Homo sapiens: one gene and its partners. The protein of the gene in region 4 purifies or fractionates together with the protein of the main gene of each other region. This does not show direct contact. Each region holds a gene or a part of one and is shown on either strand. Other genes may lie near its edges.

Region 1 (3,500 bases), on a different chromosome or scaffold from region 4:
TGTAAGTTCAAAAAAGCCATTCATGGAAGATCTGATAGCTGATATAAGGTGACTGAAATCTGTAAGACAGGTGTTCACCCTTACCTTTGCCTTCAAAACCATCATTATATGGTTTACTGTATCAAGCTAGAAAAGGTAATTGTATCAAATGTTATTTAATGAATTTTTTTTCCTTAACCAAAGGAGCAACCCTATTGACTGAAAAAGTCATTATAAAATCTCTCGTTTCCCTAATTTAGTGCATGTTTTATGAGATTAGTGAACTTTTAGTACTTTTAGTAAATAATACTTAACCAACTTTTTTGTTTTCACTTGGAGAATTTGTATGGAAAATGAGAACTGCCCTCTGTAGGCAGGTCTTAAAGACCAGTGTTTTATTCATATGACTCAGTCCTATGTGCTTTTTGTATGTGTGATTGTTAACAAGATTTTGGGAAAACAAATTATTTGAAATGTAGTAGACTTACAGCTTTGGTGCAGCATAGATCTTGAAAAATATGTTTATGAACTAGAAGAAGAAAGGTGGACATTTTGAATATTAACATCTTAAAAATACATTGGGGTCATTCTCCCCCCTCTTACCCCCCTGGTCCATTGCTATATAAGGCAGCATCATTTTGCAGTGACCAATTTTTTTTTTTTAATTCATGGTGACTCTGCTTTTAAAGAGAACTTGCTTGAGATATTTTTTAATATTTCTCGTTATGCTTAGGCACAATAATTTTTTAAAAAGTAATAGGCCAGGCCAGGCACGGCGGCTCACGCCTGTAATCCCAGCACTTTGGGAGGCCGAGGCAGGCGGATCACCTGAGGTCGGGAGTTCAAGACCAGCCTGACCAAAATGGAGAAATCCCATCTCAACTAAAAATATATAATTAGCTGGGCATGGTGGTGCATGCCTGTATCCCAGCTACTCGGGAGGCTGAGGCAAGAGAATGGCCTCAACCTGGGAGGCGGAGGTTGCGGTGAGCTGAGATCGCGCCATTGTATTCCAGCCTGGGCAACAAGAGTGAAACTCCGTCTCAAAAAATAATAATTAATTAATTAATAGGCCAGGGACCAGGCAGTGGCTCATGCCTGTAATCCCAGCACTTTAGGAGGTCGAGGTGAGCAGATAACTTGAGGCCAGGAGTTCAAGACCAGGCTGGTCAACATGGTGAAACCCCATCTCTACTAAAAAAATATATAAAAATTAGGCTGGGTGCAGTGGCTCACGCCTGTAATCCCAGCACTTTGGGAGGCCGAGGCGGGTGGATCACGAGGTCAGAAGTTCGAGACCATCCTGACTAGCATGGTGAAACCCCGTCTGTACTAAAAATACAAAAAATCAGCCGGGCATGGTGGCAGGCACCTGTAGTCCCAGCTACTCAGGAGGCTGAGGCAGGAGACTGGCGTGAACCTGGGAGGCTGAGCTTGCAGTGAGCCGAGATCGCACTGCTGCACTCCAGCCTGGGCGACAGGGCGAGACTCCGTCTCAAAAAAATATATAAATATAAATATAAATATATATATATATATATATAAATTATCCGGACGTGGTGGCGTGCGTCTGTAATCCTAGCTACTCAGGAGGCTGAGGCATGAGAGTCCCCTTGAACCTGGGAAGTGGAGGTTGCAGTAAGCCAAGATTGCACCACTGCACCCCAGCCTAGGTGGCAGAGTGAGACTCCATCTCAAAAATAACAACAAAAAATTAATAGGCTGGGCATGGTGGCTCATGCCTATAATCCCAGCATTTTGGGAGGCCGAGGCGGGCAGATGGAATGAGCTCAGGAGTTTGAGACCAGCCTGGGCAACATGGTGAAACCCTATCTCTTCAAAAAATATAAAATTAGCTGGGTGTGGTGGTGTGTGCCTGTAGTCCTAACTCCTCAGGAGGCTGAGGTGGGAGGATTGGATCTCTTGAGCCCAGGAGGTGGAGGTTGCAGTGAGCTGAGACGGTGGTACTGCACTCCAGCCTGGGCAACAGAGAAAGACCCTGTCTCAGAAAAAAAAAATTATATATATGTGTGTGTGTGTGTGTGTGTGTATATATATATATATATATATATATATATATATATACACACATATATACACACACAAACACATTAACTGAAGTCACAATAATTTTTTCATGTGCTGTTTCTCATTGTTCAGATGGCTCTGCAACCTGGATTGTATTAGGTATAAATCCTATGCAAATAGACTATTTTATTGCCATTTCATTGTCTAAGGAAAATGTCATTGGCCTATAAAAGTTGAGGCCTAAAAGACATAGTTTAAAAATGTTTTATCTCTTATGGAGCTGAAAACATTTGGTATCACCAATATTATGATTAAAAGGTTGTTTAACTTTTTTCTTATTAGGATCCACCTCAGAAAAAGATGGAATGCACCATACTGTCACCAAGCACAGAGGTATAATTACACTCTACAGGCACCAGAAAGCTGCCTTTGCTATCACAAGTAGGCGAGGTCCTACCCCCAAAGCAGTAAAAGCTCAAATAGCAGATCTTCCTGCAGGAAGTAGTGGAAATATTCTTGTTGAACTTGATGAGGTAAGTAGTTTTTTTTTTTTTTTAATGCTTTGATTTTTAAACAAATATCTGACTTACAAATTGAGAACTAAGTTGTATTAGCTTCCAGAGTTGTTTTTAAGTAAAGAAATGGGATTAATTTTTGGAGTACTCCAACAATATGATCCAGAAAAACGGCAAACTTCAAATATCTCATGTCTCTTGTAATTTTTACCAGCTTAACTTTATCTTCCTAGGCAAGACAGCCTTGTAAACTAATTCAGTCCTATAGCAGTGACTGTAGAGAAGGTGCTCAATAATAGTGAAAGCTAACTTTTCTCTGTCCTTTCAATGCACAAATGTCATATAATTGCAACCCACCTGACTTTTTTAGTCAATTTGATATTTATTAAATGCTTAGTGTGAGGTAGGGTTCTAAATTTATTTTTCATATGAACAGCCAGTTATCCCACTATTGAATCCTTTCCTCTCTGATTTATAATGGCACCTCTGTTAATGGCTTCATATGTGTGAGGGTCTATTCAGGCTTTCCATTATCTCCCATTGGTCCACCTGTTACACCGTACAGTCTTAACAAGCAGTGGTTTTTAAAAAGTGTTTTGTTTTGAAAATCTGACAGTCACATTATTAGCAATAGAATGAATGCTCTAGTTAGTTCTTTGGAATGCAAGGCATAGGAATGTACCTCAGTTCAGCAGTAAACCATCAATACTAAAAGACATGTTTCTGTAAAATATAAACCCCTTTTAAGTTTCTTTTTAAAATCAACAGCTTATCTATATTTCCCTTAAAACATTCTGTAAAGTCTTTTTCATTGACAATATTTCCCTATAATAATTGTAATAAAAATTTTACTGTGATTTTGATATTTATATCTCTAGTTTGCATAGTTATTCCTCCAATTAAACATAATTTTAAAAATATAAATATCTTTTTGGGGGGACAGATTTATGGACCGTAATTACTGCTGAATAAGAATTA
Region 2 (3,500 bases), on a different chromosome or scaffold from region 4:
AACCAGCTCTTTTTCATTTTTAAGCATCACCATTGCCAAAGATGAAATCCCCTTTGATTTTTGAAATAGATTTTCTACTTTAGAACAGTTTTGTACTTCAGAATTATGGTGAAGATAGTATGGAGAGTTCCCATTTACCTCACATCCAGTCTCCCCTATTGTTAACTTTTTACATTAGTGTGGTATATTTGTTACAATTAATGAACCAATACACTACATTTTATTCAGATTTCCTTAGTTTTTCTGTGGTCTCCTTTTTTTCCAGGATTCTTTTCAGGATATCACATTATATTTATAGTTATGTCTCTAGACTCCTCTTGGGTGTGGTGTGATAGGAGAATCTTAAAATTTCCTTGGTTTTGATGACCTCAAAAGTATTGAGGAGTACTGGTGAGGTATTTTATAGAATGTCATTTCATTAGGATTTGCATGATGTTTTTTTCTCATCAGACTAGGGGAATGTATTTTGCGGAGGAGAACCACAGAGGTAAAGTGCCATCTTTGATTACATCATATCAAGGGTAAATACTTATGACTTGTCACTGTTGGTGTTAACCTTGATTATCTGGCTTGAGCTAGTGTTTGTCAGGTTTCTCCACTGTAAAGTTACTGCTTTTCCTTCTTTTTTTGTACTCTACTTTTTGGAAGGAAAATTACTGTCACAGCCCATAAAGACTAGAGAATTATGCTCCCCTGTCCTTGAGGACTATCTGCATAAATTATTTGGATTTGGAATTCTTTTGCATGGAAGATCTGTCTCTTCTCCTCTTGTTTATTTGTTTTTTAAATCACTTACTTATAGGACAGTGGGATTATGAATATTCATTTTATATTTTGGCTTGTAATCCAATACTACTTTATTTATTTTGCTCAAATTATTTCAGCTTTGGCCATTGGGAGCTCTTTCAGTTGACTCCTAGATCCCTTTGACATACCCCCATCATTAGGAGCAGGAGAGAGTTCTCTGTTCATTACTTTGATCATTTTCTTACCAGTACTACAAGATACTCCAGACTCATCTTGTGTGTATGTTTTGTGTGTATTTTTTTTTTTTTGAGACAGGGTCTCACTTTGGCGCCTAGGTTGAAGTGCAGTGGTGCAATCTTGGCTCACTGCAACCTCAACCTCCCAGGCTCAAGCAGTCCTTCCACCTCAGCCTCCTGAGTAGCTGAGACTAGGCACATGCTACCACACCTGGATAATTTTTGTATTTTTTTGGAGAGATAGGCTTTTGCCATGTTGCCCAGGCTGGTCTTGAACTCCTGGCTCAAGCACTTCACCTGCCTTGGCCCAAAGTGCTGGGATTACAAGCGTGAGCTGCTGTGCCCAGCCTCATCTTGTATATTTTCTGTCTCAGTCTTAGAGTTGTTTCTCCAAGGAGCCTTGGTTCACTTTATTGGAGAATAGTCTTAGAAACCAAGATATGGCTGCTAGGCTTGCTCATTGCTACTGGATGGTGTTTAGTTTTTAGCTTGAAGTGAAAGTCCTTTTGCTGTTAGTCATACCCCCATACCTTTATGGATGTGAACCACTATTATTTGTCTTTCCTGCCCTGAGAAGTAACCCCTGATAACCAGATACTGTTTTGTATACTTTCCACAAATTAATTTTTATCATTTAATCCTCAAAGCTTCCTTGTAAGGTGAGTACTATTATTATCTTCTTTTGATAGTATCCAGATGGCAGACTATAACAGATAATGCAAGTTATATTATAGAACAGAACTTCAAGCAGGTACAGGACTGCAGGTGAAATCTTGATAATCTGTGCTGGTGGGAGAGTTAAAAGCAAGAAGACATAGGGACCTCCTAAAGGAGAAATGTTGGCTGAGCACTAGGAAAAGTAGCATTTAAGGAGAGAACAGAAAGCCCTGAAAATATGCTGCTTCTGAACCATTCCAGTTTGATAGCATTGTTTGCTTTCTGTTGAAGCTCTCTGGCACAGCAGTCGGTTATTTTCCAAATCCAGTTTCACAGCTTCTTGTATTGTTGACTCTAAGTTTTCTATGGCACAGTTGGTCTGTCCTCTCTAAAGGCATAAGCTGTGACAGTTCTCTTCCTCAGAAATCTTTGTGATCAATATAAGCATAAAAAGAGTCTGGAATCATAAACTCCATCTGTTAACAATGGTTCTCTCTGTGGAGTAGGATTGGGTTGGGCTCTAATTCTTACTTTGGCGATAACTGCATATTTTTTAAACTAATGAACATATAGTACTCTTGAACTGTTAAAGCAAAGTTGGTAAGAGGCCTGCAGAATGTTACTGTTTTTTCTTGAGAGACACTTGTCCTTATATTTGTTCTCTCTTGAATTCCTTGATAAATATTTGTTGAATGAATGGTTGTGTTTGTCATGTCACAGATGTGCCAATTGTTTTGACTGTCCTGGCTGCATGCACACCCTCTCTACTCGGGCCACGAGCATCTCCACACAGCTTCCAGATGACCCAGCCAAGACCACCATGAAGAAAGCCTATTACCTGGCATGTGGATTTTGTCGCTGGACGTCTAGAGATGTGGGCATGGCAGACAAATCTGTAGGTGAGTGAGATGGACTTCAATATGAAATTTTGTACAATTGACAGTGCTATAATTGCCCATAGATTATTATTTCTGTAACCCGTTGGGGCGATAGGAGCTAAATTCAGAATATTTTGTCATTAACTCTTCTGTGTTCCCATATGTTCACATTTGTAGACCTTAGTGTTTTATCTGAGATGGGATAATATTTAGTTTTCTTAGACTTGATAAAATAGCTTTTATAAATCTGGTACTTTCTTGGAATCAAAATATTAATGCTCTTCATGAAAAATAAACATTCATGTTAAGACATCATGGATAAAACTAAAAGATAAGGCCGGGCACGGTGGCTCACGCCTGTAATCCCAGCACTTTGGGAGGTTGAGGCGGGCAGATCACAAGGTCAGGAGATCGAGACCATCCTGGCTAACACAGTGAAACCCCGTCTCTACTAAAAAATACAAAAATTAGCTGGGCGTGGTGGGGGCACCTGTAGTCCCAGCTACTCGGGAGGCTGAGGCAGGAGAATGGCGTGAACCTGGGAGGCAGAGCTTGCGGTGAGCCGAGATCGGGCCTCTGCACTCCAGCCTGGGTGACAGAGCAAGACTCTGTCTCAAAAAAAAAAAAAATCTTTAAAGATAAAAATGACAAACTAAGAAAAATAGTTGGGTCTTATATAACAGGCTAAAGATGAATACTCAGAAATGAGGAACGCTTATAAGTCAATAAGAAAAAGACTTAGTAGAAAAACAGGCAAAGGATATGAGCAGCAATTCTCATAGTAGAAATAAAAATGGTCAATGAATATGCAAAAAGATGTATTCGACTTCCCTAGTAGTCATGTAAATGCAAATTAAAGCTTCCTTCTATTTGGTACAACATGTTTAATCTGGTTGTATCAAGTGTTGGCTAGAACATAGGAGAATAGTTCTCTCATACACTATGGTAGTCTATCTTGGAGACCAATTTTAAAACATTTATT
Region 3 (3,500 bases), on a different chromosome or scaffold from region 4:
AGGTGCATCAGGTGCTCTGCATCCCCAGCTGGATGGCAAAATTCTTTTCTTGGACACTTGAACCCATCTTCTCTTCTTCAGAACCCACCAGCGAAGCCAGAATTGGGATGGGAGCCACGCTGGACATCCAGAGACAGCAGAGAATGGAGCTGCTGGACCGGCAGCTGATGTTCTCTCAGTTTGCACAAGGGAGGCGACAGAGACAGCAGCAGGTAAAAGTGATAATAATCACTAAAAATTTAGAAATTCTCAGTGGCCCAAGCAAATCTTTCCTCTGTGATTGCATGTGAGATAGAGACTACATTTTATTCCAGTGCCTTGCAAGTGGATTTTGACATTTCCAAAGAGATTGTAGGTCTCTGTTAGTGGCCATTCTTAGTTTTTTAAAAAGGTAAAAAATAAATTGCAGCTGAAAGATTGGTCAAACTGGACATTCTTGTTCCACCTATATTAGATAAGCATGACTTCTTAGAGAAACACCAACCTAGTTAACAAGATGTGCTATTTATCTGTTTTTATAATCTTGTAAAAGCCACAGTGTCTTCCTGTTAAAATGCTAATCATATGCTATGGAGTGAAGAACAAATGTAAAATTTCTTGATTTTCCTTGGTTGAAATGAAGAGAATATGAAGGCAAGAAGATTTTCAGTGGAACAACCAAGGAGTAGATAAAAAAAAATGCTGTGTTTTCTCAACCTTGCTATCAATAATCAGAAATTATTGCACATTTGTCTACAAATTCTGCATCCAAACAATCTGATACTACATTTGTCTTCCATGGGCAGTGAGAGAAGGAGGGTTAGTGCACATCAGGCTAAAACCTCAGGCCTGATCTTTCTTGGACACTTCTGTGAGCCAGCCCACAGGGCTCCCCATTTTTCGCCTCCACCTTCTTTACCCCTGGGGTAGTTGTAAACCGTACAGTTACCTCTGCCATCTCTCTGTCTTCCACTAGCATTGGATGCAAGAAGTAGGTCTGCAGATCTCACGATGGTTTGGAGAAGTGAAATCAGGTTTGAGGTCCTTAGAGTCCCATTGGAGATGCAGGTCCCAGAGTTTATATCAGGGGGGGGGAGGAAGGGGGCAGCTTATTAGGGGCAGAGTCTACAAGAGAAATAGAGAAGCAAAAGTTGTTTCTTAAAGATGTGCTTGAATTTGAGTGACTCTGGAACATGCCATAAAGATGCCCATGGTGTATTTAAAGCTGGAGGATGGACATCTCTGTCTTGGAAATGTGGAAGCTACATATATATATAGGTGATGGAGTCACCTCTGTAGGGATGAGAGCTGAGAGCCGAAAGCAAAGAAGTAGTAAGTTCTGTAAGAGAAGAGCTACATCCAAGATGAACACAGGCTACAGATGAAGCCTCGTATTTAGCAGGAGGTAAATCCTTCAAGGAAACTGAGAGAAGAGCGAAAGGTATGAGAAATCAGAATGATCAAGGTCAGAAAAACTGAGTAGTGATTGAGTATAAAGGTAGAGGCACAGAGCTTATGAGGGAGAGAAAGAAGTAGGGGATGGTTCTGATGTTTCTGGCCTAGATAATCTTAGATAGATGACTGATAGTTCCATTTCACCAATATCAAAAGAGCAGATTTGGGGGAAATATGTTGTCTGAGATACCTTTGGAATCCTGGGAGGAGATTCTCCATTGGAGAGCTTTGAATTTGTCCTCATAAGCAAACCAGAGAAGTTGCATTTCTCAGATTGGCCTCCCCAGGAAGATTTTTATACAAAGAGTTTATGAGAGAACACCGTCAGCATCAGTATCTATGGGGGCGGGCTGGCGAAGGCAGCAAGATGGGACAGAGGGAGCAGCTGCAGTTCCAGCAAAAGCCTCGCTGGTCTTATGGAGCACAGTGAAGCTGGGAGAGCCCTTCTGAGTTGTCCCAAAATGGGGACCAGTCCTGTTGGGTAAGTCCCATGCGTACGACCTCTTTGAACCTTAATTACCTCCTTAAAGTTCCTACCTTTAAATACAGTCACATCGTAGGGTTAGGGCTTCAGCGTGTGAATTTGGGGCAGGGGCAAGGGGTGGGAGACAGTGTGTTCCATAACACTGCAGAGTGGAAAGGGCCCAGCATAGTCTCGGCGCTGAGTGACTGTTCTGCTTGCAGACGGTAGTTATCAGGCACACACAGTCTCTGTGGATGCCAGGTTGGATGCTCCATAGTGGCAGGAGATAGGTCGGCCTAGGTGAGGGGGACCCACACATTCCTCTGTGCTACCACCATGGCCATCCATTCGTGTGCCAGCGCTGGGTTATCTGGTGATGGAGCCACAGTCATTCTGTCCACCTTCCATTTGGTGCCTTTTCTGTGGTGGATGCCCGTGGTGGGCACGACCTGCAAGACACTTGATGCTGTTCCTTTAGCTGGATCCTCCTTGTTCCCTCCCTTCCAGTCCCCTGACCGACCAACCAGGTGATCTGCCATGCCCAGCAGATCCACACGTGTAATTGCCTCAGGCCACTTCTCTTCACACAGAGTTGATGACCAAATGTGCTGCCCAGGCTCTGCCCATAGGGGGTTCCCCTGATCGCTGTCTTTCAAGATTGAGCCATCATGCAGCCGTTTCTTTCAGCTGCCACTCATGTCCTGAGCCAGCCTGTCCATTTGGCTGTTTTCCCCTCTGTCACTTGGTCATGAGGGGCCCACCAGCTGTGGTAGTCGGTGTTAGCTGGGAAGAGGCTGTGGTGCAGCAGAGGTGGCTGCCAGGGTGGTCTGGCATGCCTGCTTCTGCAGCTCACCCATGCCCTGCAGCCCCACCTATGCTGAGCCCAGATGCCCGTGTCCATCTGATGATGGGTTTCTGTCGGCCCACCTGGCTTGGTAACTTGGTGGGTCTCCACTGCTGACCACATGCTCACTTTGTGGCCTACAGACAGGCACTTCATGGTGCAGCAGCAGTTTATGCAAGTGGGATTCTTGGCTGTTTGCGCACGCCCTCGCTCCAGGATTCTACGGACCCCCATTGTGGTTCTCCTTTCCTGCCTTGCTGTAAACTCCGCACGGTGTCTTTCCCCCCAGATACTTGGAACATCACGGGATCTGCCAGGTTGTACCCAGGCCTCAGGGAATGAGACAGACCCAAACCCCTGCCCTGCTGGAGCGTGCATTCCCACCAGGCGCCTGTGAAGTGGCACAGGCCTTTATGGCTGTCTACACTGCTGTCAGACTCCTCCACTTTCATAGGATGGTCTCACTAACAGATCTGAAGTCCAGAGCAGGACACCAGCCCCTGGGCTCTTGCTGGGCTTTTACGTTGAGTGGTCTGCTGGGCAGCACAGACCAGACTCTTGATTTTTTCCTAAGCTTCCTAAGTTCTCTTCTAGGGTCCGCACATGGGTACACCCAAACCTGAGCACTTAGCCTCCTGCTGAACTTCTTCACTCAGCTGTGTCTCAGTTTTCTTCACATAAGTATGATAAATCACCACGTAGAGAACTCTTTTGTTAAACCACCACTGGAAATTATCTGCCGTATTTGTGTGCATGCAC
Region 4 (4,060 bases):
CGTTCTTCCTTGCACTTACCTATTTAGAAAGTTTTAGGCTATTAGCAAATCGGCTATCAGTTTAAGAGTGTGAGGTCCCGCTCCAGCCAATGGATGCAGGACATAGCAGTGAGGACGACCCAAATGCGTAAGGGATAAATATGTTTGCTTTTCCTTTGTTCAGGTGTGCTCTCGACATCGTTCCATCTGCGATTGAGCACCCTTTCTGCAGAAAGTAAAGATTGCCTTGCTGGAGATCTTTTGTCTCCGTGCTGACTTTTCTTCGTGGCACCGATTATCTATTTCTAACAATTTTGGTATTTCTAACATTCTGAACAATCTTGGGCTAGTTGTCTCTTCTGGGCCTGTTTCCCCATCCGTCACATGATAAACTTCATTGGTTTAAAAACCCCAGCGAACATTTATTGAGTTACTATTACCTTCCTGCCCTCCCCAACCCCAACCCCAGGGAGCAGTTACAACCTCAGCCGCTGAGCGCACTCGCCGGGTGTTAAGAAGCACCAAAGACAGGGAGGCTTGATTGATTTTGCTTTGGGAGTAGAGGGTCAGAAGATTCACAGGAAAATGGCATTTGAGCAAGGATGATTCACTGGAGCTAGCTTTTAAATACTGGCGAGGCTTTTATGTTGCAGTCCCTTACAAAGTTGAGCATTCGCAGGGACTGCACTCCGAAATAAGCCCGCTTCCCCTTTTCATTCGCTAATGATCCAGGGAGCTGCTGGTTCCGCATGCGGCAGGTTGTGCCTTTTCCTAATCAGGGTTCTGCATCGCCTCGAACCCGCAGGCCGTGGCGGGTTCTCCTGAGGAAGCAGGGACTGGGGTGCAGGGTGAAGCTGCTCGTGCCGGCCAGCGCCTGTGAGCAAAACTCAAACGGAGGAGCAGGAGGGGTCGAGCTGGAGCGTGGCAGGGTTGACCCTGCCTTTTAGAAGGGCACAATTTGAAGGGTACCCAGGGGCCGGAAGCCGGGGACCTAAGGCCCGCCCCGTTCCAGCTGCTGGGAGGGCTCCCGCCCCAGGGAGTTAGTTTTGCAGAGACTGGGTCTGCAGCGCTCCACCGGGGGCCGGCGACAGACGCCACAAAACAGCTGCAGGAACGGTGGCTCGCTCCAGGCACCCAGGGCCCGGGAAAGAGGCGCGGGTAGCACGCGCGGGTCACGTGGGCGATGCGGGCGTGCGCCCCTGCACCCGCGGGAGGGGGATGGGGAAAAGGGGCGGGGCCGGCGCTTGACCTCCCGTGAAGCCTAGCGCGGGGAAGGACCGGAACTCCGGGCGGGCGGCTTGTTGATAATATGGCGGCTGGAGCTGCCTGGGCATCCCGAGGAGGCGGTGGGGCCCACTCCCGGAAGAAGGGTCCCTTTTCGCGCTAGTGCAGCGGCCCCTCTGGACCCGGAAGTCCGGGCCGGTTGCTGAATGAGGGGAGCCGGGCCCTCCCCGCGCCAGTCCCCCCGCACCCTCCGTCCCGACCCGGGCCCCGCCATGTCCTTCTTCCGGCGGAAAGGTAGCTGAGGGGGCGCCGGCGGGGAGTCAGGCCGGGCCTCAGGGGCGGCGGTGGGGCAGGTGGGCCTGCGAGGGCTTTCCCCAAGGCGGCAGCAAGGCCTTCAGCGAGCCTCGACCTCGGCGCAGATGCCCCCTGAGTGCCTTGCTCTGCTCCGGGACTCTTCTGGGAGGGAGAAGGTGGCCTTCTTGCGCGAGGTCAGAGGAGTATTGTCGCGCTGGTTCAGAAGCGATTGCTAAAGCCCATAGAAGTTCCTGCCTGTTTGGTTAAGAACAGTTCTTAGGTGGGGGTTAGTTTTTTTGTGTTTCTTTGAGGACCGTGGATCAAGATCAAGGAAATCTCTTTAGAACCTTATTATGGAAGTCTGAAGTTTCCAAATGTTGAGGGTTTTATGTCTAAAAGCAACACGTGAAAAAATTGTTTTCTTCACCCAGTGCTGTCTTCCAATTTCCTCTTTGGGGGGAGGGGTAGTTACTGCTGTTACTAAAATAAAATTACTTATTGCTAAAGTTCCCCAACAGGAAGACCACTACTTTTGATGACTTTGGCAAGTTTGCTAACTACTGGAACCCTAACTTACAAACGAACTACTTACATTTTTGATTTCCAGTTGTATTACCTGCCCAATGTTTACGTAGAAACAGCTTAATTTTGATTCTGGGTAACGTTGTTGCACTTCATTAAAAATACATATCCGAAGTGAGCAAGTATGGGTCTGTGGACAGCAGTGATTTTTCCTGTCAATTCCTGTTGCTTCAGATAAAATGTACCAGACAGAGGCCGGGCGCGGTGGCTCACGCCTGTAATCCCAGCACTTTGGGAGGCTTGGCGGGTGGATCACCTGAGATCGGGAGTTCAAGACCAGCCTGACCAACATGGAGAAACCCCGTGTCTACTAAAAATACAAAATTAGCCAGGGTGGTGGCGCATGCCTGTAATGCCAGCTACTTGGGAGGCTGAAGCAGGAGAATCGCTTGAACCTGGGAGGCGGAGGTTGCGGTGAGCCGAGATAGCACCATTGCACTCCAGCCTGGGCAAAAAGAGCGAAACTCCGTCTCAAAAAAAAAGTACCAGACAGAAATGGGTTTTGTTTTCTTTTTTTGTTTTGAGACGGAGTTTCGCTCTTGTTGCCCAGGCTCGAGTGCAATGGCGCGATCTCAGTCTCGGCTCACTGCAACCTCTGTCTCCCAGGTTTAATCGATTCTCCTGCCTCAGCCTCCCAAGTAGCTGGGATTACCCATGCCCCACCATGCCCGGCTAATTTTTGTATTTTTAGTAGAAACGGGGCTTCACCATGTTAGGCTGGTCTTGAACCCCTGACCTCAAGTGGGCCTCCCACCTCGGCCTCCCAAAGTGCCAGGATTACAGGCATGAGCCACCGCGGCCAGCCAGAAATGGGTTTTGGAAAAAGCACTAAACAAAATCGAACTTGGTTTCATATGACAGCTCTGCTGCTAACTGTAACAGGGGCAGACCAGTTAACCTACTTTTCTGTCTTCTGTCAGCTGAGAATTAGATGATTCCCAAAGGCCCATTGAACTCTGAATGACTTTAAATACTTCTTCTTAAGTGGGTACACGGTTTTGGTAACTGATGCCAGGTGATGAATGCATGAAAGTGCTTAATGAATGAAACCGGTAAAATAGTAGGAGGAAGCTTTATTGGTAAGGCAGGGGTATACCTAATAGCTCTCTAATTTATTGGTATTGAAGTGGTTAACTTTTGTTTTTTTAAGGGGGGAAAACATTCTAAGAATAATGAGGCAAACTGCATATTGCACAAGAGACTGTTGTCTCTATTCAACAAATACCTTTTGAGTGTCCAGAGTCTGCCAGGTGCTGTGCTAGGCCCTCACGATTGAGTAGTGAACCAGAGAATGTCCCTGCACCCATGGAGCTTATTGTCTACTGGGGTAGACAGATAATAAATAAGCAAACAAATCTTCTCTCTTCTCCCTTTCGCTCCATGTAAGTGTGTGTGTATAGGTGTATACTTACAAGTTGAGTAAAGTGTTATGAAAGATTAAGAGGAGAAATGCATTTTGGTTAGATGTTAGAGGACTCAGCAGGTGACCTTGAAACTTAGAGCTGAAGGATCAGTAGGAGGTAACTAGAGAGGCCAGGGAATCGCATGTTCAAAGGCCAGGAGGCAAGAAAGAGCATGGTGCCCTTCAAGAGAGGAAAGAAGGCTACTGTGACTGGAGCATAGATGTAGGCAAGTGTTGGGTGATTGAGAGCTCTACGGGCCATGGTTAGGTTTTATTCCTAATGCCGAGATGCCAAACATGGTGGTTCATATCTGTAATCCCAGTATTTTAGGAGGCCGAGGCAGGAATATAGCTTGAACCCAGGAGTTCAAGACCAGCCTGAGCAACATGAGACCTGTACAAAACATTTAAAAAATTGCTGGGTATGATGGTGCACACCTGTGGTCCCAGCTACTCAGGAGGCTGAGGCAGAAGGATCACTTGAGCCTAGGAGGTGGAGGCTACAATGAGCCATATTTGAGTCACTACACTCCAGCCTGGATGACAAAGTGAGACCATGTGTCAAACAAAATACAGAAA
Region 5 (4,003 bases), on a different chromosome or scaffold from region 4:
CCCAAAGGACCCCAACCTCCGTGCTGGGGCCACGGGGCCTGGACAGCCAACCTCCTTCCGCTCTGGTCCCACAGAGGCCGGGGAGTGGGCCCAAAGAGCACCAGCATTCCACCTGGTGTGTGCGGCCCCCGCGGCCTCGACAATTGGGGATCCGGGCCCCCGAGCACCCCTTGCACAGGGGAGGGGAGCCCTAGGCCTGGCTCCTGGAGGGGAGCGTGATAGTCCGGTGGACCCCATACCCTGGAGAGAATGGAAACCCCCAACCCACGACCGGTTTCCCTGATGGAGCCTGTCTGGTTGGGTGCAGTGTGTGAGGAATATACAGCTGGAACCATCAGGCCCGGGCTGGCTGTTGGGAGGAGTGGGGCGTCCCTGGGACTGCGGGGTCCTGAGCTGAATGCCAGCAGCACTGGTGTGGCTGGAGCGGCCACCTTGCCCCTCCTTGGAAGGCGGCTTCCAGGCTGGGCCAGGGTAGGAGGAGTCCAGGGTCCTTTAGGCAGGCCGGCAGGGGGAAGGGCCCAGAGCTCCAGCTCCTGGCTCCCGGCCCAAGTTGTTTCTAAATTTGTTCCCCAACCCCCACAGGGACCCTGAGCCGCACGTGGTTTTTTCCGTGATAGAACTTCCGTCTGTGTGTGCTGGCCTGTCCTGGGCAGGGGGCTCCAGGCTGGGGACGGAGGAAGGGGGAAAGGAAAGACAATGAGCCCACTTTGGGGGGCCCCCGATTGGGGTCAGGAGGGGAATGAAAAAGCGGGGAGAGGAGTAATAAGAGAGGGATTGGGGGTATGCAGCTCGGCAGAGGACCCTGCCCGCCCCCTGTGCTGCTGCCTTGCTCCCGCCTTGCTTACACAGGGCCTGGAGCCCCTCCCCCCAGCTGTAAGCCCTGTGTGTGGGGTGACAGGTGGAAGGGATAACCTGGGGGAGGTGGGGGCCCTGGAGGACAGGCTGAGGTGCAGGAGCCCAGGGTGGGGGCACAGCATGCAGCAGGGGCCCTCGGCCTCACCAGGTGTCCTGAGCCTGACCAAGCCAGGAGGGCTCTGAGCGCTAGAGAACTGAAGCGGGAATGTGACCTCCGGCCAGGGGATCTGGGCAAGCCGGCCAGGCCTCCCCCCTTTGGCGCCTCCGTCCAGCCCAAGTCCCGCCTGGGCCGCACCCCCTGACTCACTTCCTTTGCATAGAAGCGGAAACCTCCCCAGAGCTTCCTCTACTCCGGCCGGCCGCTCCCTGGGGACCCACAGGTGTCGCTGCCCCTCCAGGCCGAAGCTGGCCCAGGAGGCCCCTGGCCCACCCCCTCGCCCTGGGAGGCGCATTTCCTGCTTGGAGTCTCAGGCCCCAGCGTCTGGCACAGGCAGGGGCCTGCGGAGCTGAGGGCAGTGGACCAGCTGCAGGTAGGGGGTGGGTTGGGGCCCAGGGCCCAGTTCCTGCCAGTCAGTGGCTCTCTTGCTCCGACCGGCCTCTTCTTTCTGTCCATCTTTTCGTTTCACCTCCACTAGTCTCCGGGGGGCTCCCTGCACTGCTCAGCTCGTTCACTGGAGGGGTGTTGGGAGGACCCCAGTTTTGGAGTCGGGGCTGGGAGGCCTGGGTTGAGCCTGGGGACGGGGCCCGGGCCTATTCTCAAAATCATAAGTTCCAGCCAGACCCCCGCCAAGTGTTCTGGAGCGTGTGGGGGCGTCTCTGAACTCCTGGGCGCTCAGGCCTCTGCTTCCCGCGGCCCCTCCTTGGGAGACGGCCCAGTCCAGTGGGAGCCGCGGGCGGGGGCAGGGTCCGGGGGTGACTGTTCACCCCAGTGGGCGCCTGGGCGGCCACTGACTCCTTCGACGACTCCTCCAGGAAGCCGGGGCGGCCACCAGATAAGCCTCTACCCCGCCACTTCCTCAAGGCCCGCGGCCGTTTATGGGAAGACCCGAGAGATTTGCATCGGGGCCCTGCGGAGGGGCGGAGGGGCGGAGGGGCGGAGGGGTCGCTTGCCGGTCTGAGGGGCGAGGCCGCGACCAGGCCCCTGGCCCTGGGGCAGCCCGGGCCGCACCCCACGGGACTCCCAGGGGGTAAGATCACTCCGGGGACCGGTTCCGGCGGCCCGCGGGAAAGGGCAGTGGCGGGAGTCCAGAGACCCTCCCCGTCTTCCCGTTGCAGGGAGGGCGACCTGTATGCGGAGCGCCGTTCCTGCGACATGGACCGCGGCCAGCCCAGCCTGGAGCCTGCTGCCGCGGCCCCCCGAGCCTCGGGCCGGTGCGTGATCGCGCCCGTGCGCGCTGTGCTCCGCCTGCGCCGCCGGGTGTGTGTCCTACGCAAACGGCGCCTCCTGCAGCCGGGTGGGGGGCCCGACGTCGGGACCGGGGCGCCCAGGCCGGGCTGCAGCCCCCGGGCACCGCGCGCGGACCTGGACCAGCCAAAGTTCTTCACCTTCGACAGCCCCGCGGAGCTACCCTCCAGGACGCCACGCAAGAAGCGCCGGCGCAGCCGCCTGGTGCTTTACCCGGAGACCTCGCGCAAGTATCGGCCGCGCGTGGAGCACAGGAGCCGCGCGCAGCGCTGCCTTCTGCTGCTAGTCGCCATCGTGGGCTTCCAAGTTCTCAACGCTATCGAGAACCTGGACGATAACGCGCAGCGCTATGACCTCGACGGGCTGGAGAAAGCGCTGCAGCGCGCGGTGTTCGGCCAGCCCGCTGCCGTATCGCGCATCGTGGCGCTGATGCGGGACTACCTGGCCACGCATGTGCACAGTCGTCCGCTCCTCCTGGCGCTGCACGGGCCCAGTGGCGTGGGCAAGAGCCACGTGGGCCGCCTGCTGGCGCGCCACTTCCGCTCGGTGCTGGAGGACAGCGCGCTCGTGCTGCAATACCATGCGCGGCACCACTGCCCCGAGGCGCGCGCCGCACAGGACTGCCGCGAGGAGCTGGCGCGGCGCGTGGCCGACGTGGTGGCGCGGGCCGAAGCGGAGGAGAAGACCCCACTCTTGGTGCTGGACGACGTGGAGCTCATGCCGCGGCCGCTGCTGGACGAGCTGCACGGCTTCCTGCAGCCGCAGCGCTCCCACCACTTCCACAACGCCATCTACGTGCTCCTCAGTGGCGCGGGTGGCGCCGAGGTCACGCGCTTCGTGCTGCAGAACGCGTCCCGCGCGCTGCCCCTGCGCCCCGACGGCTTCCGCAGTGCCGAGGCCGCAGCGGCGCAGGCGGAAGAAGACCTGCGCGCCAGCCTGCTGGCTGTGCTGTCCCGGGAGCATCCGCTGTGGCAGGCCGCGGCCATCGTGCCGTTTCTGCTGCTGGACAAGCGGGATGTGGTCAGCTGCTTCCGGGACGAGATGGCGGGTGAGGGCTTCTTTCCTGACCAGGCCCGCGCGGAGAACCTGGCCGCGCAGCTCAGCTTCTACCGCGTGGCTGGCCGCGAGTTTGCCGTCACCGGCTGCAAGCAGGTGGTGGCCACGGTGAACCTCCTGTAGTGGAGGCGCAGGACGGGACGTTTGGGTTGATGGCGGCAGTAGGAGGGCGACCAGGGACCTTGTGGGCTGGTGCAGGCCCCTGAGGTTTCTAGTGAATTTGTGGCTGCCCGGCTGGTGGGTGCGGATCAGCTTGGAGCTCTGCTTCCAGGTCCACACCCGCCTCAGAGTCCGGAGTCTGTCCCTGGGGGCGGCAGGACAGCAGCCACCTCCCTCCCAAACTTGCCCATTGCCCTGCTGGGCGTCCCAGGCATGGTCTGGTGCGTTCTCCCTGTGGCCCCAAGAGGTGGGTTCCCATGGTACAAGGATGATCTCAGGGCCAACAATTCCCGGGGTCACACAGCTGGGACGTGACCCCGCCTCTTGGGGGTGGTCGCGTGTTGCTCAGTGCTGAAGTGGGGTTCTCATTCCGGCCCCCCTGGAGATGACCCCGGAGGAGGCCACAGCCAACCATGACAGTGCTGGGGCTCTGGCTGCCTTCTCCACCCACCCCACCCCTCACTCAGGTCGTGTTTTCAGGAGCTCAAGGCTGGAGTGTCTTGACAGTAAGGGGAGGGGAGCGGAGGC
Region 6 (4,065 bases), on a different chromosome or scaffold from region 4:
CCTTGGTCTCTGCTATCTACCAGATGGAAAAGAACGTTGTAGTACCTAAGAAAATTAGGCCTTATCACCAAGAAGAAAGGGGGAATGCATGATGCAGAAGGGACCAGCCATCTCAATCAGATACTACACAGTCTAAATTCAAACATTTACAATATAATTAAATTGCATCAGCCCCAGTCACATCTTAGCCTTAGGAACTTCGATCATTGACTTGCAATCCCAGAAAGTCTGTTTTGAGGTCCTAGGCCACAGGAAGAACCAATTTGTTTTATAGACATCTTACAGAGACAGCATTCACAGTTTATCTAGAGTCTGGCCTCAGAGAATATGTACTCCACTGGCAGCAGGAGAAACAAATACACAGGAAAATACAGTGTAGCACAGAACAGGAGCTGAGGGTGAATGGAGATGCTCAGAAACACCTGCACTAAAAATTTGCTGAAAAAGGTAAAACGTGTCAAGCAGCACTGCCTCTGGAAGCCAGAAAAATTACATTTTTTGATAACAGATCCTAAGCCTGGATGCTGGAGGTGCTTAAAAATGTGCATTGTGGGCCGGGTGCAGTGGCTTAAGCCTGTAATCCTAGCACTTTGGGATCTGAGGAGGGAGGATCACTTGAGCTCAGGAGTTTGAGACCAGCCTGGCCAATATGGCAAAACCCTGTCTCTACTAAAAATACAAAAAGTAGCCGGGCATGGGGCGAGCACCTGTAATCCCAGTTATTCAGGAGCTGAGGCAGGAAAATCACTTGAACCTGGGAGGCGAAGGTTGCAGTGAGCCAAGATCCTGCAACTGCACTCCAACCTGGGTGACAGAGTGAAACTCCGTTTCAAAAAAAAAGTGCATTGTGTCTGGTTTTCTTTCCATTCATACGTTTATTTGACTCTGTAGTAAAATCTCCTCCTCCTCCATGTACCCATATTCATGCAAGCAAATGTTAGCAAACTGCCACAGTAGCATTTTAATTAGTGCTCATCTTTCTCTCTTCACCACATTAAAATCTTTTCCCATTGTGTTCTGCTGATATTTCTATTATGATAAAAGACTTAAGACAAGTGACTATATAGAAATACGTATATACACACAAGAATGAAAGAGATAAACAGTAAGGGAGGTAGGGCAGGAATTTTTCTTCAACGTGTACAATTCAATGTACTTTCAGTTTTCATTTCAGCCTTCCTCAGTGGTTTCTGCCCAGCAACTGATGAGAAACATCACCTCTGAGCCAATCAAAAAACTTATTCTTCCAAAGAGAGATTGTTATTATTCCTCACGATGACCCGACAGTCTCTGCTTTCTTTTTCCTTTCTTCCAGAAGGAGATTTAACCATAGTAGAAAGAATGGAGAACTATTAACTGCCTTTCTTCTGTGGGCTGTGATTTTCAGAGGGGAATGCTAAGAGGTGAGTGGGGGAAGTCGATTAGAGCCTGGTTCACAATGCCTGGGAGGACAGGGGCTGAATCGCTGAGAGTGGTGAGTGGGCATGCAGGGAGAGTACTCACCCAGAGAAAGGGGTGTGTGCCTGAGGGGGTGCGCACGCACACATGTGGACACATGGAAAGGGGAGAAGTAGTGCAAAGAATAAAGACCTGCAGAGTTTGGGATTTGGTGAAGAAATAGTCTAATTGCATGTTCTTAAGAACGTATTGTAGTCAGAAAAGGGCAAACAATCTTTAAAATCTGTTCTGGACAACTCAAGGCATCTATTCTAAGAGATTCTAAAAAGAGGTGTCCTTTATAGATTCATATGTAAATTTGTTCATTACAGAAGTATTAAAAATGTAGAAAAACCTGAACCAGCATACATATACAACAGGCGGGGGATAGACAAACAATGCATGGTTCAATCATAAAAGAGATTTCCATGCAGCCTTTAGGAATCGTGTTTTTAATGAAGGGCAATTATTTATAATTTTAGCAATGTTAGATCCATACATTAAACCTTGTTTTAAAATCTTTTAGGAACAGTATGTGTTTTTCCTTTTATTCATCATTTCCCCCAAACCTAACGAATGCTATCCAATGGATACAATCTATTTCATTGTATGAATATACAATTTTTTTGTTTGTTTTGAGATGCAGTCTTGCTCTATCACCCAGGCTGGAGTGCAGTGGCATGTTCTCGGCTTACTGCAGCCTCTGCTTCCTGGGTTCCAGTGATTCTCCTGCCTCAGTCTCCTGGGTAGCTGAGATTACAGGTGCACGCCACCACACCCAGCTAGTTTTTGTATTTTTAGTAGATTCGGAGTTTCGCCATATTGTCTAGGCTGGTCTCAAACTCCTGACCTCAGGTGATCTGCCCACCTCAGCCTCCCAAAGAGCTGGGATTACAGGCGTGAGCCACCACACCCAGCCTTTAAAATTATTTTTAAACACTTCCCTAGTTTGGACTATTTCTCTTTTCTGCATTTGGCTATTGTAGATTTTACTGTATTGAGCAGCCTAAAACATAAATTTTTGTCTTAGTTCCTGATTTTCTTTTTTCTGCAACACTAATTCCTACAAGTGGAACATTTGGGTCAAAGCACACACCTTTTTTTTTTCTTTTAATAGCCATTCCTTAGCAAAGCATATAACTTTTTTTAAGGCCCTTTATATATATATGGTCAAAATACTTCCAGAAATATTTACCTTTTCACTACCAAAGTATATGACTACTACTATAGATATTTTATTTTATTTATTGATTGATTTGTAGAGATGGGGTTTCATTATGTTGACCAGGCTGGTCTTGAATTCCTGGGCTCCAGGGATCCTCCCATCTCAACTTCCCAAATTGCAAGGATTACAGGCATGAACCACTACTTAAACTTGTATTCCTTTATGCTTTTTTTCATTTGCAATATTGACTATAATCAGGAAAAAAAATATATCCTTTATGAAGAAGAAAAACTTATGTCTCATTCTAAGGACAGCAGAGAAATTGTTAACTCAGGGAAAATGATAATAAAAATGATACCCCCTCTATAGCAACATAAAGAGCAGTTTCGAGGAGCAAAAGATGTGGTGAAATGCATTGTTTACTCTGGGTGGGTGCAAGATCCAGGCAGGGGTGAAGCATGGCCGGCTGCACAGATCTCTGTTCTCTTGTTTCCTTTACATCCCTCCCCACCTCCCTCTGCAGATCTTGTTCTCAGAGGCCATTCCCAGACCCACAGCAAGAGGGATTATGGCTGCAGGCCTCATGCTCCTTTGTTTTGGAAGAAACTGTTGAGGAGTTAGTATTTACTGAGCAGCTAATATGTTCCCGTCACTATTGTAACTCATAATAATTATTGTTAAGTAATACACGAAAAGTTTTAAATTTAAAGCATTCCAATATTTTAAAAGTAAAGGGAACAAAAGGCCAAGTGTCCCTTCACTCACTAACCTCTGATCTTCAGATTAGCATGCGTCTTTTTTGAGTTTTTCAGGCATTTACATAAATAGTTATGCAGAAATGGATAGCTTTGCTTCTGTTCTTCAATTGAATCTTTAGTATAGTTGTGCAAGGTGTTTTTTGATCACTTAGTGTGTCTCCGTTATCTAGGTTCATGACAACAAATCAACTCTTTTTACCTGCTGCATTGAATTCCCTCCGAGGGATGAGCCGTCATTCCTCTAAGCAGTCTCCTGATGGGTGGCTGGTTCAGTTGGTTACCATTTTTATACTTTAAAAATAGTGCTGCAGTGTCATTCTCACAGAGGCTTCTGTCTGCACCCATGCAAGTACTTTGCTCGACTTGACATCAGGAAGTGGAACTGCTGGGCCAACTGTGCAATTCTAAATTTCACACTTCATGATATTGTATAAGTAAATAAAGTTGCAATGGTTTTGTCCCATGTCTGAGACCAAAGAGCTTGTGAATCTTAGAGCCTTTACTTATTGCTTACCCTCTTTGTGTCCCTAACCCTTATATCATGGGCCTGGCCCCTTGTGGGTGCTTGGTAAATATTTGTTGAATGACTTTATGAAGGGAAGAAAGAAAAGGTAAGTAAGGCCTGGTCTTATTTGCAGCTCTGTGATCACTAGCCTTGGATTAAATGTGGTGGGTTCAGCCCCTGACTGACTTCAGGTCCCCCAC
Region 7 (3,500 bases), on a different chromosome or scaffold from region 4:
GGTGTAAGCCACTGCGCCTGGCCTCTCCTCCCCATTTTATAGATTGAGGAGTTGGCTTGTCCGATGGCAGAGCTGGGGCTACAACCTAGCATACTTGCTCCCAGGCTAGTCCTCTTGGTTAATAAGCAGCATTCCTTATCATTTGTGCCTTACTATTTGGAAAGCAGGGTCCCACTATTGAGAACTGATGGAGCCCGGACTGACCCCCAGTTTTGTGCTGCTTTTACTGTGTTGTGGCCTCCCAGTGCCTTTTCTTAGTGTATCTGGTTGATTTTGTCTAACGCCATTCTGGTTCATCCACAAAGTTAAATCCCCAGACATTTCTTGTGGGTGGCTCAGAACTTTACTGAATGTAGGTTAAACCGCAGATTTGTGTCAGGCTCTGTGAGACTTGTAGGATCATTCAGCCACAGGAGAATATTTTCTGTGCCGTTATCCACAGACATTCATCAGGAGCCCTGTGTGAGCCCAACCTATTGCTGGGAACCAGGGAAGCTCTCTTCAGGATGGCTGAGCACCATCCCAGCCCTAGAGAACCAGGAGACTTTTCTGAGAGATGTGGTCCACATGCCGAAGCTGGGGAGTGATCCAAAATGGTCTGGGGTTGAATGCAGAAATGAGTAGATGTGAATGAGCTTCAGCATCAGGGATTAATGCTGTGGGAGAAATGAAGGTAGCCTACATCTGTGGTTTGCTCTTGGTTAGGCACTGATTCCTGGAGTCTGCCTGAGACTAGGACTTACCCGTGGTCCACAGCACGGTATCCCATCCTGACTTTCTGTTAATGGTATGACTTAAAGAGGTTATTGCACCTATGGGATGGCTTAACCGGAGTGATTCTGGCCTCTTTTGGTAGGGTAACTAAAGCCCGTAGAGTTAGCTGCAGGACCACAGTACCCTGTTGAATTCATCCTCTCCCCCTCCCTTGCCAGACTGAAGAAGCTTTGTAAGAACTAAGGCAGAGAGGTTCTTTGGGAAGAGAAATTGGAGAATTTAGGGTCATGGTATCTCAGATCCTAACCCTGTTCTCCAGTATGGCCTTCTTGGCTGGCTCAGCAGGCTTCTGTTGAACTCAGCAAGCTGCCTGTGCCCAGCCCTTCATCACTGTAGTGAGGATCCTGCTCACATCTCTCAAGGGAAAAGGGACCAGAAAAGTGATAGCTGGGGAGCTTGCGAGTGTCTTGACCATCTGAATTTGTCTTGACAATAGAAATGAAGACAGAGATGAAGCAAGGAGCACCCACCAGCTTCCTCCCGCCTGAAGCTTCTCAACTCAAGCCAGACAGGCAGCAATTCCAGAGTCGAAAGAGGCCTTATGAAGAAAACCGGGGACGGGGGTACTTTGAGCACCGAGAGGATAGGAGGTGGGTGTATGAGGCAGCAGTCACCCTTGCTCTGGTAGGTTTCTATATCCATAGCCTCGTGCTTGCTGGGGACATTTGCACTAACCTAGAGGGGCTGAGTAAAGATTCCCTCTGCTTTCACACTCTTCCTGTCCCTTCCCGTACTTGCTACCAGATTCAGCTTTCCTAAACTTTTGGTCCTTCCCCCAGTTCCTCCCTTCTTACCTGCAGGGTAACTTCTAAATATCTTAGACTTTCACGCGTGAGATGCCAGCCTGCCTGTTCTGTCCTTTGCCTTACTGCCCCTGCAGTCAGCTGCTTGATACCCGTAATGAAAGAAATATCTGTTTCCTAACACTACTCCCAAATACACATCCTCTTCCCATTCATCCACTCATTCAGTCAGTTCTCACAGTGCTGTCACGAAGTGCCCACTCTTGGGCTGGACACTAGCAACATACAGATGGACAGTGGGTTTTGCCTTCTGTTGTTCCAGTGTGGGGACTCAGACACATACACTAGTAAGCCACAACCTCTGAGGTGAGTAGTCAGGATGCAGGTGAGTTTCAGGAGTTCAGAAGAGGGAGCAGCCTCTGCTTTGGTCATTTCCCTTCCCTAACAAGCCCTTCCCTCCTTTCCCTCCAGACCAAGTCCTTCCCTTCCCTCCTTCCTTCCTTCAGTTCCTGTCTGAAGCCTTTTGCAATTATGAAAACTAGGAATGGCCACTGTACTCATCTGGACTAGTCATCTGACATTCTATTTCCTATCTGGCGGAGTCCACCTTCTAACTAGCTTGTTACTGTCTGAGACAGGGCCTGGATCTCACAGGCTATGATTTAAGTTAGGACATGGATCCCACCTCATATGGGGTTCTTCCACTGCCTCCCACAGAGCAGAAGCCTGGAAGCTACTTACTGATGGAGAGCAAAGGAAGAACACTCGCTCTGATCCTGGGCTGGCAGGGAAAGTTTCCTAGAATGGACTTAACATGTGATGAGCACAGCTCATCCATGTTAGCCCTGGCCTGGCGAGGCCAGAGGGGCCCTCCACCAGAGGGAAGCCTGCTGCTGGGAGAGTCAGCAGCCAAATGGGCATGGGCTCCCCATCTGTGCATGCAGTGCACTGCGACCACCCAGACTGTCCAGGCAGGACCCTGAGTGTTAGATTCTACCTTTCTACCCTTCTTCCTCGTTCCTGTACAGCAGAAACCAACAGTGTTAAGTCCCTTTTTTAGCGTTTTGGTAGGAAAATGAATATCGTTTATAATTTAGGACACTGAAAAAAATGGGTCATCTCAAATTCTTACAGATGTAGGATTTTAAGAAGCCTGGTACATGGATAGATAGTAATTATTGGGATTTATATAGGCTCTTGCACATTCCCCTTCCTGGCCAGCACCCTTTTGGGATACCACAGCCTCCAAACAGTAACAGAGATCAGTGTGGAAGTGGTTGTCAACATGCAGAGGGTATGGATCAGAATCTTTGGGTGTAAAAAAAGAGTGAAAAAATTCCCTAAATGATTCTGATGCCCCCCTTCAGCAGAGCATGCCTTCTTCAATCCCTGTCTCCACCGTAGGAGTTGACGGTCATTGCTCTCCTTGCAAGGATGTAGGGTTTCAGAGTTCTTTTGCCCACCTCTGTGGAAGGAAATGGAGATTCAGGAAGCAGTCTGGAGGCCACTCATAGATTACAGCAGAACATTCATTTTCTTTCCTTTGTGCTCATCCATTGTTCTTGTATGACTTAACCCCTGTTTCTAATACAGGGGCCGCTCTCCTCAGCCTCCTGCTGAAGAGGATGAAGATGACTTTGATGATACCCTTGTTGCTATTGACACCTGTAAGTCTTTGGAGTGTGCATCTAATTCTGCCTTACAGTCAGTATGGGGAAATTGTGGTCTTGACCTTCACCAGAATCCCTGCTGGGCACCGTCCAAAGACATTGTTAGTCCACATGTGAGACACGGCTTAGCTCTGGAGCAAGAGTACTGGTTTGGAGGCAAAAGACCTACTCCCAACTCTAGCAGTGGGACCCTGGGCAAGTCATTCTACTTCTCTGAGCTTCCCTTCAGGAAGGAGTAAATCTGCTGTACTAACCTCAGAGGATTTTCAGGGAGACTCCTCAGTGGATATAGGAGCAATCTGGAAAACCCTGA

Evidence for each region.
Region 1: the proteins of AKAP10 (region 4) and BTAF1 purify together in Homo sapiens (tandem affinity purification; one large-scale study listed by IntAct). This does not show direct contact.
Region 2: the proteins of AKAP10 (region 4) and DCTN4 fractionate together in Homo sapiens (co-fractionation; one large-scale study listed by BioGRID). This does not show direct contact.
Region 3: the proteins of AKAP10 (region 4) and UBAC2 purify together in Homo sapiens (tandem affinity purification; one large-scale study listed by IntAct). This does not show direct contact.
Region 5: the proteins of AKAP10 (region 4) and TOR4A purify together in Homo sapiens (tandem affinity purification; one large-scale study listed by IntAct). This does not show direct contact.
Region 6: the proteins of AKAP10 (region 4) and BTN3A1 fractionate together in Homo sapiens (co-fractionation; one large-scale study listed by BioGRID). This does not show direct contact.
Region 7: the proteins of AKAP10 (region 4) and HNRNPUL1 purify together in Homo sapiens (tandem affinity purification; one large-scale study listed by IntAct). This does not show direct contact.

The regions. Positions count from the first base shown.
Region 1 is NC_000010.11:91,989,770-91,993,269, forward strand, and holds part of BTAF1 (TATA-binding protein-associated factor 172), read left to right. Parts: intron 1-2,349; coding exon 2,350-2,540; intron 2,541-3,500. UniProt on the Homo sapiens protein: Regulates transcription in association with TATA binding protein (TBP). Removes TBP from the TATA box in an ATP-dependent manner.
Region 2 is NC_000005.10:150,752,518-150,756,017, reverse strand, and holds part of DCTN4 (dynactin subunit 4), read left to right. Parts: intron 1-463; exon of another isoform or gene 464-487; intron 488-2,360; coding exon 2,361-2,539; intron 2,540-3,500. UniProt on the Homo sapiens protein: Part of the dynactin complex that activates the molecular motor dynein for ultra-processive transport along microtubules.
Region 3 is NC_000013.11:99,340,354-99,343,853, forward strand, and holds part of UBAC2 (ubiquitin-associated domain-containing protein 2 isoform 1 precursor), read left to right. Parts: coding exon 1-212; intron 213-3,500. UniProt on the Homo sapiens protein: Restricts trafficking of FAF2 from the endoplasmic reticulum to lipid droplets.
Region 4 is NC_000017.11:19,975,029-19,979,088, reverse strand, and holds the start of AKAP10 (A-kinase anchor protein 10, mitochondrial isoform 1 precursor), read left to right. Parts: upstream 1-1,260; 5' UTR 1,261-1,409; coding exon 1,410-1,497; intron 1,498-4,060. UniProt on the Homo sapiens protein: Differentially targeted protein that binds to type I and II regulatory subunits of protein kinase A and anchors them to the mitochondria or the plasma membrane.
Region 5 is NC_000009.12:137,276,523-137,280,525, forward strand, and holds the start of TOR4A (torsin-4A), read left to right. Parts: upstream 1-1,203; 5' UTR 1,204-1,385; intron 1,386-2,130; 5' UTR 2,131-2,167; coding exon 2,168-3,439; 3' UTR 3,440-4,003.
Region 6 is NC_000006.12:26,401,010-26,405,074, forward strand, and holds the start of BTN3A1 (butyrophilin subfamily 3 member A1 isoform a precursor), read left to right. Parts: upstream 1-1,265; 5' UTR 1,266-1,403; intron 1,404-3,125; exon of another isoform or gene 3,126-4,065. UniProt on the Homo sapiens protein: Plays a role in T-cell activation and in the adaptive immune response. Regulates the proliferation of activated T-cells. Regulates the release of cytokines and IFNG by activated T-cells.
Region 7 is NC_000019.10:41,270,872-41,274,371, forward strand, and holds part of HNRNPUL1 (heterogeneous nuclear ribonucleoprotein U-like protein 1), read left to right. Parts: intron 1-1,210; coding exon 1,211-1,364; intron 1,365-3,110; coding exon 3,111-3,184; intron 3,185-3,500.